Homo sapiens: one gene and its partners. The protein of the gene in region 4 interacts with the protein of the main gene of each other region in a pairwise test. Each region holds a gene or a part of one and is shown on either strand. Other genes may lie near its edges.

Region 1 (3,556 bases), about 19 Mb from region 4:
ACCTTGGGCCAGGCCCCGCGAAGCCCTGCCTAGCCCCTTGGCGTGGGTTAGCGGTGCTTTAAGGCAGCCCGAGGCGAGGAGGCCAGGTCATACCTGCGGGAGCTTGATGAGGCCTCATGAGAAAGCCCTAGTCTCAGTTCCTGGGCCCGGGGCCTCTGCAGGCCTCCACCACCCCATGCTGCCTAGTTCAAGTATTTGTTGTGGGCTGGCCAGATCAAGAGTCACCTGCTAGAACACAGGGGTAGGAATCTTAGGTGGGAGTGGGAACAGAGTGGCACCAGGCCCATTCCCTCCTGGCTCTCAAGGTCCATGCTGGCCCTCAGGGGCTTCCTGTGGGGGACTCTTTGTGCTGTCACTGCAAGGGACCCTCCTGCGGATGGGCTGGAGGCCACAGGGACATGGCCCCAGCTCACTGAGCTCCTGAGTGGTCATGATTGACTATGTGCTTGAACTTGGGGAGGGACGTGTAGATGGGAAGGGGGTGACCTTAGGGAGGGTAAAAGAGGACCCTAGCTCTGCTGCCCTGGGACAGTAAGGGGAAGGCCCAGGCCTGGCTGCCCATCCTCTGTGCCTACAACCTGCTCTTTCCTTAAATTCTGCCAGCAATGGGCCACCCCTAGCCCCGGAGCAGCTCAGCCCACCTCCTGCCAGCTGCATCTCCCTGGAGGCCCAGGGCTTTCTCCGACCTCTCACACAAGCCCTTTGCAAAAGAGCTGACTTCCTGGAGGCCAGGGCAGGAGCATCTGCCACAGGTCAAGGGGCAGGGATGTCGGGGGTACTCAGGATGGTGACCCCTCCTGGTCCATGCTGTGACCCACAGCAGGGGTTTCGAGGAGACTCCGGGGCTCGGGGACCCCCATCGGCAGGCTGCCAGGCCTCCCTGCACATGCAGGTCTCCGTGGTCCTGCGTCCAGGCAGGAAGGCCCCTGGGCTGCTGTTGCTGGAGAAGGAATGTGGGGGGTCTCGGTGCCAAGACTGGGGATAGCAAGGAGGTGAGTGGGAAATGCAACCACAGGCCAGCCAGCGCCCGTGCATGGAGTCAAAGGGAGGAGTCAGCATGGTGACCACTGCCCCTGCACCGGGGGAGGAAGGCATGGGGGTCCTGGTGAACCTCTCCCTGTACTGCCCAGAGCCCAGCCTGACTCCCCCCGAAGCCGGGTAGGGATGCATCACTCCGACTAACAAATGTCTCAGCCCTAAAGGGCCCCTGGCTCCAGGTCACCCTCCAGCTCTACAGAAGGGCAGGGACGAATCTGATCCTTGTTAGCACTGACACAAGAGGGCGGGACCTGAGTCAGCCCCAGGGGAAGCCAGCATGCCCTGGAAAGGCTGGTCCCACCAAAGCATGCTAGTGTGTCTCCCAGGCTGCACCCAGGAAGGCTGGGTTGGGGAGGAGCCCAGGGCCAGATGGGCAGCAAAGTGTATCCGGCTGTAGCCAGCCACAAAAGAGGACACTGATGTCTGGCAGCAGCACAGAAACCCCTGTGGCTGATGTTTCTTCCTCTTGGATGCTGAGGGTGGTTTTTGGAGAATAGTCAGCTTCACTCCCACCCCAGCCCCAAGGCATCTCCTCGGAGAAGGCTCAGGCAGGTGGCCAAGGCCAGCAAGGGGCGGGCCTGCAGCTGCTCAGGCCCCCTTGGATCTCCTCCTGGCAGACAGGGGTATAGGGGATAGCAGCCCATGGGGATGGGGCCTTGGTTTCCTGCAGAACCTACACGAGAGGCCAAAAAAAAGATGGGGGTACCAAGGAGAGGAAAACACCCCCGGCACCCACCACCAGCCCGCCTGTAGACTGCATCCTGTGTGTTCACATGTGTGAACCGCACGTACGGTTGAGCCTGGCCAGTGCTCAGTCCTTCACTCTGCTGGTCTCTGTCAGGGAGAGCTGACCCTTTCCAGGGCCCTGCCTGCACTGGGCATGGGGGTCTGAGAAAGGGGCAGCACCGCTGGCAGGTGGGGTCTGGCACTGCCACCCTCAGAAGCTGGCACACGAGGTTTCTTATTGCTCCTCTTGGCTCTGGAGCACACCTTCTTAATTTCCAGAAAGGACACAGGCCCAGGAGAGGTGGCAGCAGGGGTCCCACACTGGCCCTCCTGCTGATCTCCAAGTGGAGCCCGGTGGGCAGGATGCAGGCTGGCTCTAGCCCCTACGTGTGACCCACAGGCCTCCCACGAAGCCGCTGGTCTCTGCAGAGTGAGAGGTGCCGGGACTACCTGGCCTCCTTGCCGCCTCGGTTACCGGGTCACCGCCCATCATTGGTCAGCTGCCTCCAGGGATCTGGACGTGGGGCACAGATGAGTGTCCTTACAAAAATAACTCTGAGTCTGTTCCCAGTGGGACCAGGTTCCTGAGAGCACGTGGGGCCAGGCAAAGGCCACGTGGAAGAGTCCGGCAGGGAGCGCTCCCGCCTGCAGGCCAGGGTTACGGCTGCAGGCGCTCCAGGTACTGCGGCAGGGGGTTCTCCTTGACGTACTTCTGGATGTACCAGCAGGTGAGATGGGCCTTCAGGTCCTCCTCCACCACGAAGTCCAGGGCGGCCTGGGAGCCGGGCAGAGAGGAGAGTGGTCAGGGCCTGCAGCCGGCACCAGAAGGTAGCATTGTCTGCTGCCTCCCCAGGCCCGGCTCCCTGGCCACCCTTCCACTTTGCCCAGGTCAGTAACTCCCTTGAGTTTCAGTGTCACCTGGGATGATCCCCACAGACTGGTCCGGTACACAAGGAAAAAACACATCACCTCTCCCCTACAAGCCCCCTTGCCCCAGGCAGCATGGAGGACAAAGGTTGCCCTGCAATTCTCCTGGCGGGGTGGGGGTGGAGGAGGGGAAGCCGGCAGACGGCCCAGCTAAGTCCCAGCAGCAGCCCTCAGGGGAGTGACGGTCATTCTTTGCTCTGGCTGTAACTCCCTTCATTAAGCCCAAACCTGCTCTCCAGGCAGCCTGGGGTTTGGGATGCCCTGAGGATGAAGGGGTTGGGGGCAGGAATGGGGCTCCTGTGAAGCACCTGCCACACAGGAGGTGTGTGAGGATCTTGGAGGCTCAGCCACGCCAGGGTCTTGCAGAACAGGAGCCTGGGCCCAGAAAGGCGGCCACTGGCCCAGAGAGGACCCAGGGCCAAGAAGCAGGCTGAAGTGGCCACCAGGGCCACCGTCTCCTCGGAGCGAAGGTGGCAGCCCCCATGTCCCCGTCCCCGCTTGGCCCTGCCACCTGCCTGCCCTACCTTGGCAAGGTGCTTGGCGATGCCACGCCCACGGTAGGCATCTGGGACCTCGGTGTGCTGCAGGTCCACGATCCGCTTGCCCACGTACTCATAGAGCAGGACGGCCCGGTCATGACATCCTGGGGGTTGTGGAGACAGGTAAGCCTATGCTGACTCCCATCCCAGCGGACTCAGGCACCAAGACGGGTGGAGGGACAGGCATTTGGAGTCATTCAGCTGCTACAGCTGAATCCTGAATAACCTCTCAGTGCCTCAGTCTCCTCATCCATAAAGTGGAGGTACAATAAAATGTCCTTCATAGGGTGGTTTGGAGGATTAAATGAGGTAACCTCTGTGACGTG
Region 2 (4,140 bases), on a different chromosome or scaffold from region 4:
CATAAAATAAGTCTTAATTCATTGCAGAAGACTTAAATCTTAAGGAATATGTTCTCCGACCACATTGGTCTTTAAAAACACACCAATAACAATAAACACCTAGAAAATCCTAAAGTATTTGGAATTTAAATAACATCCCTTTAAATAGCCCATAGGTCAAAAGAAAAAAAAAAAACCACAAGTGAAACTAGAAAATATCAAACTGAATGACAATGAAAACACATCAAATTAATATTTGTGGGAAGCAGCTAAAGCCATACTTGGAGGGAAATTTATAGCTAAATGACCGTACTGGGTGGGGGAAAGAGAGGCCTAAAATTAATGACCCAGAAGTCTGCCTTAAAAAAAAGCTAGAAAAACTAAGAACAAAGTAGGCCTGAAGTAAATAGAAGAAAGGAAATACTGAAGTTAAGAGTAAAAATCAGTGGAATAATGATAGAGAAAACAAGGCTAAAAACCGGTTCTTTGAAAAGATTAATAAAATTGAAAAGCACAACTAATACCAGACTTTCTCTTTTTTATTCGTTTGAGTTTTTTGTGCTGACTGTGCACGGACCAGTTCACATGGGTGCTGGGTTCACACAGGTTACAGGGGGAGGCAGAAGGAGAGAACACACCACAGCCTCCAGAGCGCCTCCATTGCAGATAAGCACGCATGCGCTCCTCCGTGCCGCACCCCTGTTCACTGCTGGATCCTGCGGATGCTCTGCACCTGGAAGGTCGGGGCATGAGAGCCCCACTCCCGGAAATGTTTGTAGTCACCGGAATGGTGATCGCATTCCAGCACATACTGAAATCCTCGGTAGCCCGGAAACTGGGAGCAAACCCAGCTGGAAAAGAGAAAAGGCAGACAGTTACTCTACAGAGACACCAGCATGGTGATCAACACAGGGGCAAAGGGATCTATGCACACGCACACAATTCCAGCCATCCTGGCCTTTCTTCAGTGCTCACAATGTGCCATGCTCTCTCCCCTACCACAGGGCCTTTGATCATGCCATTCCCTTTGCCAGAAGCACCATCCCAGCCTTTCTTTTCCTAGACAAGTTGTATTTGTCCTTCATGGCTCATCTTAATTATGAGGGCAATCTGACTCGTTCCCCAAATCAGGCCACAGTCCCTTATTATACCTTTGTAGCACTCATGTAATTCGATAGTTTTCAAATTATTTGTAAAATATCAGCCTCCCCTGCCAGCAGGCAAGCTCCTGAGTGTAGGAACGTGTATGTTTTGTTCATCGTTATCACCACCTGCATAAATATATAAAAGTCTAGCAAGGAAGAAGGGGTTCCTAAATATTTGCTGAATAAGTGAACAAGTGAAGGAATGGGAAGTCTTGTTCTTTCCCCTTTCTCCCTCCTTCCTTATCCAGAGGCACTTCCAAGAAAAAAAGCTATCATTTCAATTCATTGATTTTTTTTTTTTTTTTTTTTTTGAGACAGAGTCTCACTCTGTTGCCCAGACTGGAGTGCCGTGGCATGACCTCGGCTCACTGCAACCTCTGCCTCCTGGGTTCAAGTAATTCTGCCTCATCCGAGTGGCTGGGACTAGAGGCATAGCCACGACACCCAGCTAATTTTTTGTATTTTTAGTAGAGACGGGCTTTCACCATGTTGGCCAGGCTGGTCTCGAACTCCTGACCTCAGGTGATCCGCCCACCTCAGCCTCCCAAAGGGCTGGGATTACAGGCGTGAGCCACCGTGTCTGGCCCAACTCATTGATTTCTACTCTGTTCAGGACAAGGATTGGTGTCTGGTTTTCCAAGCCTCCATTTCCCTTTCTGTAAAAGAGGAAGTGAACTCAAGAATCACAAGGGGTCCCTCTTACTCTAAAACAACATGATTCTTTGGTGGTTCCTGAGAAAACTAAAGCCAAAAAAAGAAAAAAAAAAAAGATGAAAAACCCTACCTCCCATCTTTGCCCCCTGCCTACCAGGAGCCAAGGGGCACCTCAGAAAGTGGTTCTGATGTCCTCCCTAAATAAGAATCTCACACCTTAGCCTTCACCTGCCACCTCCTGGGTGGAAAGGAAAGGGCCAGTCAGTGCTGAGTTTGAAGCTGGATTGTTACCTACCTGCTGATGGACTTTGAGCAGGTTGCTGGAGCCACACCTGTGTTTTATGGCTAGGGGCATTCATTCTCCCCTCTTCTAGCCAAAGAGCCTGTGGCCTCTCACTCTCAGCCAAGGTGAGAAAATGAGGCTGAATCTAGCAATGGACCACATGACCAAACCTAGCCAATCAGAACACCCCATTCCTATGGGCATGATGATTGGTTCAGAGTTGAGCACAGGACCCAGCTGGACCAATGAGCACCTTTCTTGGAACCTTTAATAGAATCACTGAGCCTGGACACTGTCTTTCCCTAGGGCTGGATGTAACGATGAAGCCGCCACCTTTGCCTTCACACAGGAAGAGCTTGTCTAAGAATATAGTCACACAGAGGCAGGCAGGGCAACAGGTTGGGGGTTGTGGGGGGAGAGAGATACCTGCTGTAGTACCTGGATCCAGCTATGCTTGAAGCTAATTACAGGGGCTGATAAATATCTTCTGGGCTCAAACCAGTTTGATCTGGGTTTCAGTCCCTCAAATTCTGCCTGATACCTCCCTGTGCCTCAGTGTTCTCCTCTGGAATGTGGGCATCAGAGCACAAAAGTCCCCAGCACACAGTTTTCACAGGAGGTACACCTACCCCTCCCAGTAGCCCCTCCCCTGCCAGGTAGAGCCTTGAATACACTTACGCCCCAGAGTGGACGTGGAAGGACCCTACTTCATTGCCTTCCCATCCCATGGCCTGGAGGGAAGGATAGTCATCGCTCAGCTCTCCTTTCTTGCCCAGGAAGTTCTCTTGCTCGAAGATTGTCAGCCTCGAGTCACGGTGGTTCTACAGGAACAGGGAACACAGTCAGACCAGCAGGCTCCCAGTTGGAAACCCAGGAGCCTCTCCTGGCCTCCACACTCCCTGCCCTTGTCTCCCAAATCAGCCTTCCTTGCAAACCTTTTGGAAGGGCAATAAGGCAACAGGTACCAGAAACCTTGCCATTTGCCCTTCCAGAAATTTCCACAAAGAAAATAATCATGGAATAAATAGGCTGCAAGAATGTTCATCATAACAGTTTTTTCAAAAACAAACAAACAAAAAAAGGAGTCAACTTTTATGTCCAAAATTGGGGATCCAGTGGTAAGCTGAGGCATTACACTGTGGTTAAGAAAAAGGGTGTAGAGGCCCGGCGCGGTGGCTCACGCCTATAATCCCAGCATTTTGGGAGGCCGAGGAGGGTGGATCACCTGAGGTCAGGAGTTCAAGACCAGCCCGACGAACATGGTGAAACCCTGTCTCTACTAAATACAAAAAATTAGCCAAGCGTGGTGGCACATGCCTGTAATCTCAGCTACTTGGGAGACTGAGGCAGGAGAATCGCTTGAACCTGGGAGGCAGAGGTTGCAGTGAGCCGAGATTGTGGCATTGCACTCCAGCCTGGACAACAAAAGCAAAAACTCCATCAAAAGAAAGAAAGAAAGAAAGAGAGAGAGAGAAGGAAGGAAGGAAGGAGAGAGAGAGAAAGAGAAAGAAAGAAAGAGAAAAAGAAAGAAAAAGAAAGACAGAGAATGAAAGAAGGAAAGAAAGAAAGAAAAGGAAAGAAAGAGAAAGAAAGAAAGAAAGAAAGAAAGAAAGAAAGAAAAGGAAAGAAAGAGAAAGAAAGAAAGAAAGAAAAAGAAAGAAGGAAAGAAAGAAAGAAAGAAAAAGAAAGAAAGAAAGAAAGAAAGAAAGAAAGAAAGAAAGAAAGAAAGAAAGAAAGAAAGAAAGAAAGGAGGGAGGGAGGGAGGGAGGGAGGGGAAAGGAAAAGAAAAGAAAAGAAAAAAGAAGGAAAGAAAGGAGGTGTAGAGATATCATCTCAAATCCTTCCTGCTAGGAGGCAGCTGCCACTTACCAACTGACTGAGGTTAGACAGGATTTCTGAGCCTCTGTTCCTGTATCTATAAAATGAAACTAACCCTACCCATTTTTCAGGGTTCTTTTGAGGACTAAATGAAATCAGGAGTTGCAAACTGCTGGGAATGAGGGATTGTTTCTGTTGCAGCCCGCCACGGGTCCCTATATTAGCACAATATCTAGACTGTTTGCAGAATAAATGAACAAA
Region 3 (3,634 bases), on a different chromosome or scaffold from region 4:
GTGAGCCAAGGTTGCACCACTGTAGTGCAGCCTGGGTGACGGAGTGAGACTCCATCTAAAAAACAAAACCCAAAAAACCTGTGATTGTCACTATGAGATTTCATCATCTCAACCATCCTGGAGGGATAAGTGTCACTTTACAGATAAGGAAACTTACGCCAGCGAGGGTCACCAACATACCTGAGGCCACGTGGATAGTGAATGGTGAACCCTGGAAGGAATGCAGGTTGCACCTGACTTTGCTGTGGCTCAAGACGATCTTGCTGCCCACCCGGGTCTTGAGGTCATCCTGACCTTCCCTTGCCTTTGGTTGGCCTGAGGATCATCTCCCACCCCCACCCCACCTTCTCCAGATGTCACTTGATGTCCACTGCACACCTAATCCTGGCTAGATCTAGCAGGTGTCCAACCAGCCTCTACTGTGTTTCCATACTGGGACATACAGCATATATGGTTTAGAGAATGGCCCTTCCTCCTCTCTATCTAGGATGGAGGCCTTGGAAGCTAATACAACTCAACACAGCAAGGTCTGCTGTGATAACTTCCATGGAGAGGAACAGAAAAACTTCTGTAAGACTTCACAGCTGGGAGGAAGACATGAGGGAAGGATGGAGAGAAGCTTCCTGACAAAGGTTGCCTTGATGTGAGTTCCTGAGGGATGGATGAGACTGAAAGATGTGGTAAGTGGACGGAGCATCTGATGCCTAGGAACGGAGGTTGGAGAACATAAAGCAGGCACCAAGTTTGTGCCAGAACTTAAAAGTTCAGAGAATAGCTACAGAAGATACAGGCTGGGTGGGTGGGCGAGGCCAGATGATGGATAGACTTGCATATCAGACAAATAATTTTGGACTTTTTTTTTTTTTTTCTGGAGACGGAGTCTCGCTCTGTCACCCAGGCTGGAGTGCAGTGGGGCGATCTCACTGCAACCTCCGCCTCCCAAGTTCAAGCAATTCTCCTGCCTCAGCCTCCCAAGTAGCTGGGACTACAGGCACATGCCACCACCCCTGGCTAACTTTTTGTATTTCAGTAGAGATGGGTTTCACGGTGTTGCCCAGTCTGGTCTTGAACTCCTGAGCTCAGGCAATCTGCCTGCCTTAGCTTCACAAAGTGCTAGGATTACAGGTGTGAGCCACGCGCCTGGCCTTTTTTTCTTTTTTTCTTTTTTTGAGATGGAGTCTCACTGTTGCCCGGGCTGGAGTGCAGTGGTGTGACCTCGGCTCACTGCAGCCTCCACCTCCTGGGTTCAAGCAATTCTCCTGCCTCAGCCCCCGTATAGCCTGGGACTACAGGCGTGCACTGTCACTCCTAGCTAATTTGTATATTTTTAGTAGAGATGGGGTTTCACCACGTTGGCCCCCCTGGTCTCGAACTCCTGACCTCAGGTGATCCGCCAACCTTGGCTTCCCAAAGTGCTGAAATTACAGGCATGAGCCACTGAGCCCGGCCAGAATTTTGGATTTTTGTCCATAAGCAGCAGATAGGTGCTGAGATCTTTGAACCAAAGAATGTCACAATTAGAACTTGACATGCTTTTTTTTTTTTTTTTTTGGACGGAGTGTTGCTCTGGAGTGCAATGGCGCGATCTCAGCTCACTGCAACCTCCGCCCCCAGCGTTCTAGCAATTCTCCTGTCTCAGCCTCCCAAGTAGCTGGGATTACAGGCACCTGCCACCACTTCCGGCTAATTTTTTTGTATTCGTAGTAGAGACAGGATTTCGCCATGTTGGCCAGGCTGGTCTCAAACTACTAACCTCAGGTGATCCACTCGCCTCGGCCTCCCAAAGTGCTGGGATTACAGGCGTGAGCCACCATGTCCGGCCGACATGCCTTCCTATGCCTCACATAAAAAAGAACCCCACGTCTCATCCATGTAGAACCCCAATCCTTTTCACTTATTCAGTGATCCAATATACTCATGCTGGGCTCAGTGCTAGGATTTGGGGATATAGTGATGATGAAGGAATTGGTCCATGGTCTCAGAAGGAAATAGGCAATAAACTCTAGAGATGCCACGAATCCGTATTACTGCAGAAGCAAGCGGGAGGTATTACTGGGGAGCCAGCAGAGGGACACGGAGCCCAGTAAGAGAGGTGGGAGGTACCTTCCAGGAACATAACTAGGAGTTAGCCAGGGGAGAGGGGAAAGGGTATTCCAGACGGAAGGACAACTTGAGCAAAGACAGGGAAGGAAAATTTAAAAATACAGTGGTGCTTTGTGCATGATTTCTTTTAGTTTTCTCCAAAAGGTGTCATCATCCACCTCATTTTACAGATGGGAAAACTGACCCTTAAAGAGAAAAAGGGAGTAGCATAAGCCACATGCTGAGTCAGCGATGATCCTGAATTTGAAGCCCCTGAACCTGACCCCAGAGCTCCAGCTGCTAGCCAGTCCAGTCTCTTTCTGATGGGACAAGTTCTTCCTAGGATAAAAGGTGCCCTGCAAACTAACAAGGAATGGGCAAGGCGGAAGGGCGTCCTGAGCATGGGAAGGAAAGGGCCTTGGCTGAGGTGTTCCTCGGAGCCACCAGAAGTGAGCGACACCCAGCTCTTTGAAATGAATAGCCTGGGAAGAAAGGGACAGAACAAATGCTTCCAAAACCTGCCACCCGCTTCCATTCTCAAACTTGGAGAGGAGTGAGAAGGAGTGGCCAACTTGGAAAATCTGACAGTGAGTTGGAAGTGGATTCCTGCGGTGGCTGCCCCCGCTCCCCACCACGCCCCGTCAATGTCACCTTCAAAGTCAACTGTGCCGTCTCCATTAACATCAGCCTCCCGGACAACCTCAGAGATCTCCCGGGGGGTGAGCCGCTCCCCCAGGAGTCTCTGCATGGCCTGCTGTAGCTCCACCAGGGTGATCTCCCCATCTCCATTCGTGTCAAACTGAATAGAAGCAGAAATAGATTATATCAGCAATGACAATGATGATAGCCACGAGATGATGGAGTTTACCTATCGCTTACTGTGGGTCAAGCACTGAGATAAAAGCTTTGGGAATGTGAGCCACTAGAACGTCAGCTCCAAAAGACAGTTTTGTTCTGTTTTTTTTTTTCTTTTTTTCTTTCTTTTTTTTTTTTTTTTTATTTGAGACAGTCTCACCCTGTCACCCAGGCTGAAGTGCAGTGGTGCAATCTCAGCTCACTGCAGCCTTCACCTCCTGGATTCAAGCGATTCTCGTCCCTCAGCCTCCCGAGTAGCTGGGATTACAGGCGCGCACCACCAAACCTGTTTAATATTTGTATTTTTAGTAGAGACAGGGTTTCACCATGTTGGCCAGGCTGATCTTGAACTCCTGACCTCAGTTGATCCACCTGCCTCAGCCTCCTAAAGTGCTGAGATTACAGGCTTGAGCCACTGTGCCCGGCCGAAACTTTTTTTTAATGAGACGGGGTCTCACTATTTTGGCCAGGTTGGTCTTAAAATCTTGGCCTTAAGCAACCCTTCCACCTTGTCCTTCCAAAGTGCTAGGCTTACAGTCCTGAGCCAAAGTGCCCAGCGATACATTTAAAACTTACTTTTTAGGTGATTTTTGAAACATACATTATTATTTACTATAGTTATCCTGCTGTGCAATAGATCTCAAAAGTTATTCCTCCTGTCTAACCAAAACTTTGTACCCTTTGACAAGCAACTGTC
Region 4 (5,574 bases):
AGAAGAATAGAAATCATGCAGCAAATTCATTAGTCACAGGAAAAAGGAGGATCATATCTATAAAAAGAGTCCCCAGGCTGGTGGAATGGGCCTTGGTTTCACAATCTTGAGATGCAAAAGGTGGTCTCAGGCTGGGTGCGGTAGCTCATGCCTGTAATCCCAGCACTGTGGGAGGCCAAGGCGGGCAGATCACCTGAGGTCAGGAGTTTGAGACTGGCCTGGCCAACATGGTGAAACCTTGTCTCTACTAAAAATACAAAAATTAGCCGGGCTTGGTGGTGAGCACCTGTAATCCCAGCTACTTGGGAGGCTGAGGCAGGAGAATTGCTTGAACCCGGGAGGCGGAGGTTGCCGTGAGCCGAGATCGCGCCACTGCACTCCAGCCTGGGCAACAGAGCGAGAGACTGTCTCAAAACAAAAGAAAACAAAAAAAGTTGGTCTCCTCTGCAAAGACTTGAACACTAATCTGGTGGAAAGGCTTCCTTTCCCTCGTTTTCTCTTCTACTAATCCCTGCTTCCAAATTCTCTTTCTCTTGTCCCTTGAAGAACCAACAGGATGTGCGATATTTCAAGAACGTAATGAGCAACTCCTCTTTCACAAAGGGAATAAGCAATCTGGCATAGCTTGGAGTCTAGTATTACGGAAATACAGTGATATACTGAAGACTACACACCAAAATACATCCATTCCTTTAGCTGAAGTCTCAAACATGTTGGGACTGTTGCCATGGAATTTCATAAAACCTTTTTTCCTGAGACAGACGCCATGCCACAAAGAAGGATAAGCCATTTGTGCAGTCTGAGGTGGAACATTTTAATTACTGGCAGCACATAGACGAGTTGAGTTGGAGCCGAATGCATAAGCCCCTTAGAAATAAAACACTAATCTACCAGGAATTTGGGATTCTTGGCTCTGGTAGAAATGTTACAAATTAAGCTGACTCTTAATTTGTAAATAGGCTCCATGAAGTTGTCCCTGGAAGCAGAATTTATTTTCCCTAACATAATTTCTTAAAAAGTAAAAAAAAAAAGAAGGCTTTGGCAAACAGCTGCATGTGCCAATTTGTGTGTATGCTTTGTGGCAAGATCAAAATACCTTTCTGTTTTTTGTTCCTCTCCACCACCTTCTTCACATTCACAACTCAGTGGTTAAAGGAAAAACTTAACACACCATTTTCATACCAAAGGAATGTGAAACATGTATTCATATAAATACTCTTCTGCTTAATATCCATACATTAGGAGGTTTAAAAAATACCTTGTGGTTACTGCATAATCACATATGAATTAAAGCTAGAAGGGACCTAAGAGAACATTGAAATCTAATTCCTATTTTATGGATGAGGAAACTGAGTTTTTTTTGTTTTTGTTTGTTTGTTTTTGTTTTGTTTTGTTTGAGACAGGGTCTCACTCTGTCGCCCAGACTGGAGTGCAGTAGTGTGATCTCCACTCACCGCAACCTCAACCTCCCAGGCTTAAGCGATTTTTCTGCCTCAGCCTCCGGAGTAGCTGGGATTACAGGCATGTGCCACTACTGCCCAGCTAATTTTTGTATTTTTAGTAGAGACAGGGTTTCACCATGTGGGTCAGGCTGGTCTCGAACTCCTGACCTCAAATGATGCGCCTGCCTCGGCTTCCCAAAGTGTTGGGATTACAGGTGTGAGCCACCGAGCCTGGCCGGAAACTGAGTTTTAAGAGTTAAATAAGGCTGGGTGTGGTGGCTCACACCTGTAATCCCAGCACTTTAGGAGGCTGAGGCGGGCTGATTGCTTGAGCCCAGGAGTTCAAGACCAGCATGGGCAACATAGTGAGACCCCTATCTCTACAAAAAGAACAAAATGTAGCCAGACATGGTGGTGTGCACTTGTTGTCCCAGTACTCAAGAGGCTGAGGTGGGAGGATCACCTGAGCCTGGGGAGGTCGAGGCTGCACTGAGCCATGATTGCACCACTGCACTCCAGCCTGGGCAACAGAGTGAGATCCTGTCTCAAAAAAAAAAAAAAAAAAAAAGTTAAACGATTTCTCAAAGTCACATAGCTAATTAGCCAGCATTTTGTGACCTCCTATTCCAGTGCTAATTTTACCATGATAACAGCACTCCTCCTGATAGTATGTACATATTATGAGTGACAAGGATGACTTATACATCTGCAGAACCGTGATCAGACTTTCAGGAATTTTCATGGAATACAGCAGTTCCATTTAAATGGGAAAAAAAGGGCCGAAGCCTGCCTGATCAAGGAGAACCTCTCAATAGAGGTGTCCCTCCTCACCCCATTCCGGAGCTCAACTCCGATCTAAACACACATGCCATCTATCTCCAATTCCTCTCCTGTGGGGAGGGGGAGGCTGAGCCATACTTTTTGGACTTTTTTTGTGGAAAATATCATTGGCAAATTTGCTTTGGGTCTGTATCACCAATTCTCCATGAACTCTTTCAAGAAGTTTTAGGTAGCTGTTTTTTGTTTGTTTGTTTTCTGTTGGTGCTGCCAAACAATTTCCCCCTTTATACCCTTGCTCTGCCAACCTTGACCAAAGGAAAGCGATGTCATCATCCACAGTGGATAAATTTCTGGAGTTTCGATGATGGTCTATATTTAAAACCATGAGTTCTTCTGGCATAGATTTTCTTCTATAGACAACTGGTTTAGCCCAAAGCAGCTCAGCTTTTCACTGGAGATGGGAAGGTAAAGGACAGAAGCAGAAGTGCCATCAGATGACATTTTTTAAAAATGTTGTGATAGGAAATGGATCTGATGCTTGGAGAATGGGGTCTTCAGTTACTCGTAACAGATACTTATTTTATGGCTGTTCTTTTACTTACTCTTAGACTGTCATTTAGATTAGGGAGATTAGATCTTAACCCTTCAGCCTGTGAAGGGCAGAAGGGTGAGGCTTCCCAGCAAGGTCAGCTGGTCAGCTCTTCCTCTTTGTGGATTTGCATGTATGACTGAAAGGCTTTTCCACGTGTGGTTGATATATCTCAGAAAGAATGTTTCATATAGCACATCTCCGGGACCACTCATTCCACTGCTGTAGAAGATAATGACCAAATACCTTTTTGGCTTTTAAATTCCATAAAATTCAAGTCCCTGATGGGAAAACAAAGGTTTCACAAAAGTAATAATATGCTAGACCTGCGAATAATTTCTGAAGGAAGACAGTGTTTCCCTGGCTACCCCTGTGAACACAGCTAAAAATGGTATGAAAAGAAGTTTGGAACTGAGTATGTTTTGAGAGCAATCTGTTAGGCGAGGTCATTGGTTTTTAGAAACGATGCTGAATACATAGGAGCAATCCCTGAGACCAGATATTCACTTCAGCAGGGCTCTGTGTTCTCCTCTGGCTATGTGAGACGAGAACTCATACCGATCATGGCTTCGATATCCACACATGTTACACTCGAAAGGGTCACGGAAGCCGTGGCAGCCCATGTGAATCGTGAACATCACATAGTCCAGGAAGAGGACGCGGCAGTGGTCACACCGATACACATCCATCACCTCCCCTTCCTTGTTGATCACTTTGACGGAGTCTCTTGGGCAGATGGGCGGGGGCTTGAGGAGTTCGTAAGAGCGGGGAACCTCCTTCAGAAGTGGCATCCCATTGCGGGCCCGAGACAGGACCATGTGATTTTGCTGATAGATGTGATTCTGGCGTTCTTCATGGTTGCTGTCAGTGTCCGTGGAGTCGTGGCCACTATTGTTGGGAGAGAGGCCTCTCTCAGAAGGCACGCTCTTCTCTGGAAGGTGGATGCTTTTCTTTTCCAGCTCTTGAGGGGCACCGTTTGACATCTCAGCCCGGGTGAGGGCTATGGGATACATGCTGCTGATAACTGGAACCATCTCCGAGGTGGGAGCAGGCGGTGTCTGGACCAAGGGGCGCAGGGCTTCGGCGCCAAGATAGCTGATGGCGTTATTGATGGCTTGGTCCATCATGCGGGTCTGTATGAGCTCACTCTCTTTCTCATACATGTAACTTGAATTATAGTTGACATCAAAGCAGTGGCGCTTCTCACCTGGAACAAGTGACAGAAAGGGTTACAAAGGGAACACTGCCAAGGCAGAGAGTTTGTAAATATTTTCTAGAGACCTCAAAAAGGGAGGAGAGTTAAGTTGCCTGCTGCTCAAGAAGACCAAGCCTGGCAGAATGGTTTCCCATGGTGCTGTCTCAGGGGACACTGGTCGGCAGCAACGTGTTTGGATGGTTAAAATAAAGCCAGCAGGCAGAAGAGAGGGGCAGAGATGTGGTTCAGTTGAGGCCACATGGTAAGGTATGCCCACTGTGCATGTTAGAGGAGAGCCCTCAAGAAAGGAGGGAAAGAAGCAGGACACTAGGATGGGGCTAGAGGGACAAGGGAGCCACCAGCCCACAGGAGCCTGGGACTTCTGCTATAGTTCATGATCTCTTAAGACACAGTCGGCTCCCAACTCTTATTTTGCTTTTGCTTGTTATTTTCTGCTTGCAATATTAGGTAGCCAGGGGGACAGAAGTGCTGCAAAGAGTGGGGACACTCGGTGCCTCACCTCGGCAGCTTTTTAAATAGCTACAGAGATAGAGAAAATAGCCCCCCAGACTCCAACTGGCTACTCCCCAAACTCACCCGTCCTGGCTGACTGAGACTGAAGTGAAAGAGCTTCAAATGTAGAAAGTTTGAGAAAAGTTTTCTTGAGAAGAGATCATGGTCTTTGTCCCTTTCCTAACGTGTGTTTCTCTTCCTTTGCTTGGCAAGTGTATCTCTGATACACATGTGATCATTAGGGCCTATCTCACACTTAACTGAAAAAATATACTTGTGGTCACCCTCTCCTACTTCTCATGTCAAACTGCTGAGAAGTTTTGAAAACAGAGTTTAGCCACCTTCAGAGTGTGTGGGTGTTGTGTGTTAGAAAACAGAGGCTCTCTGGTCACAGGGAAGGCAGGGATGGGGACTGCAGTGAGGGCAGATGTGCTCAGTGGTGAGTGGTGGGGAGAGGGGAGAGAAAGCGAGGAAGTGGAGCCGAGTGCTGGAGGTGAGGCTGAGGTCACTGTTGAGCCTCTCCATTCTGTCAGCTTGGATCCTGGAGGGATTTGCTAAACCATATCCTTCTATAATGTTTCCTAGTCATGTTGAGATTCCAAAATTTGTCACTGCCCTACAGTAAAGGGTTCAGCAATGAAAATAAAGAAGAAGAAGAAAAAATGCCATGAGAAAACAAAAGGATTGGAAGAACCAGTTCCTGTTCTTGAGGTGTCTCCAACCTAGTGGATGAGAAATAAGACCTATATATATATAGAACTCGAGAAAAAGTATAAGTTAAAAGTTGGCCGGGCGCGGTGGCTCAGGCCTGTAATCCTAGCACTTTGGGAGGCTGAGGAGGGAGGATCACTTGAGCCCAGGAGTTCGAGACCAGCCCGGGCAACATGGAGGAACCTTGTCTCTACAAAAAAATACAAAAATTAGCCAGGCATCTGTAGTCCCAGCTACTCAGGAGGCTGAGGTGGGAGGATCACCTGAGCCTGGGAGGCAGAGATTGTAGTGAGCTGAGATGGCACCACTGCACTCCAGCCTGGGTGGCAGAGTAAGACCTTGTC

Evidence for each region. Proteins that work in one complex are often made in the same cells at the same time.
Region 1: the proteins of IKZF3 (region 4) and NATD1 interact in binary tests that used the Homo sapiens proteins (3 or more experiments, as listed by UniProt).
Region 2: the proteins of IKZF3 (region 4) and CRYBA4 interact in binary tests that used the Homo sapiens proteins (3 or more experiments, as listed by UniProt).
Region 3: the proteins of IKZF3 (region 4) and CABP5 interact in binary tests that used the Homo sapiens proteins (3 or more experiments, as listed by UniProt).

Annotation. Positions count from the first base shown.
Region 1 is NC_000017.11:21,240,891-21,244,446, forward strand, and holds part of NATD1 (protein NATD1), read right to left. Parts: intron 3,335-3,556; coding exon 3,216-3,334; intron 2,540-3,215; coding exon 2,423-2,539; 3' UTR 1-2,422.
Region 2 is NC_000022.11:26,627,030-26,631,169, reverse strand, and holds the end of CRYBA4 (beta-crystallin A4), read right to left. Parts: intron 2,883-4,140; coding exon 2,740-2,882; intron 831-2,739; coding exon 683-830; 3' UTR 501-682; downstream 1-500. UniProt on the Homo sapiens protein: Crystallins are the dominant structural components of the vertebrate eye lens.
Region 3 is NC_000019.10:48,031,482-48,035,115, forward strand, and holds part of CABP5 (calcium-binding protein 5), read right to left. Parts: intron 2,882-3,634; coding exon 2,734-2,881; intron 1-2,733. UniProt on the Homo sapiens protein: Inhibits calcium-dependent inactivation of L-type calcium channel and shifts voltage dependence of activation to more depolarized membrane potentials. Involved in the transmission of light signals.
Region 4 is NC_000017.11:39,762,476-39,768,049, forward strand, and holds part of IKZF3 (zinc finger protein Aiolos), read right to left. Parts: intron 4,019-5,574; coding exon 3,315-4,018; 3' UTR 1-3,314. UniProt on the Homo sapiens protein: Transcription factor that plays an important role in the regulation of lymphocyte differentiation. Plays an essential role in regulation of B-cell differentiation, proliferation and maturation to an effector state.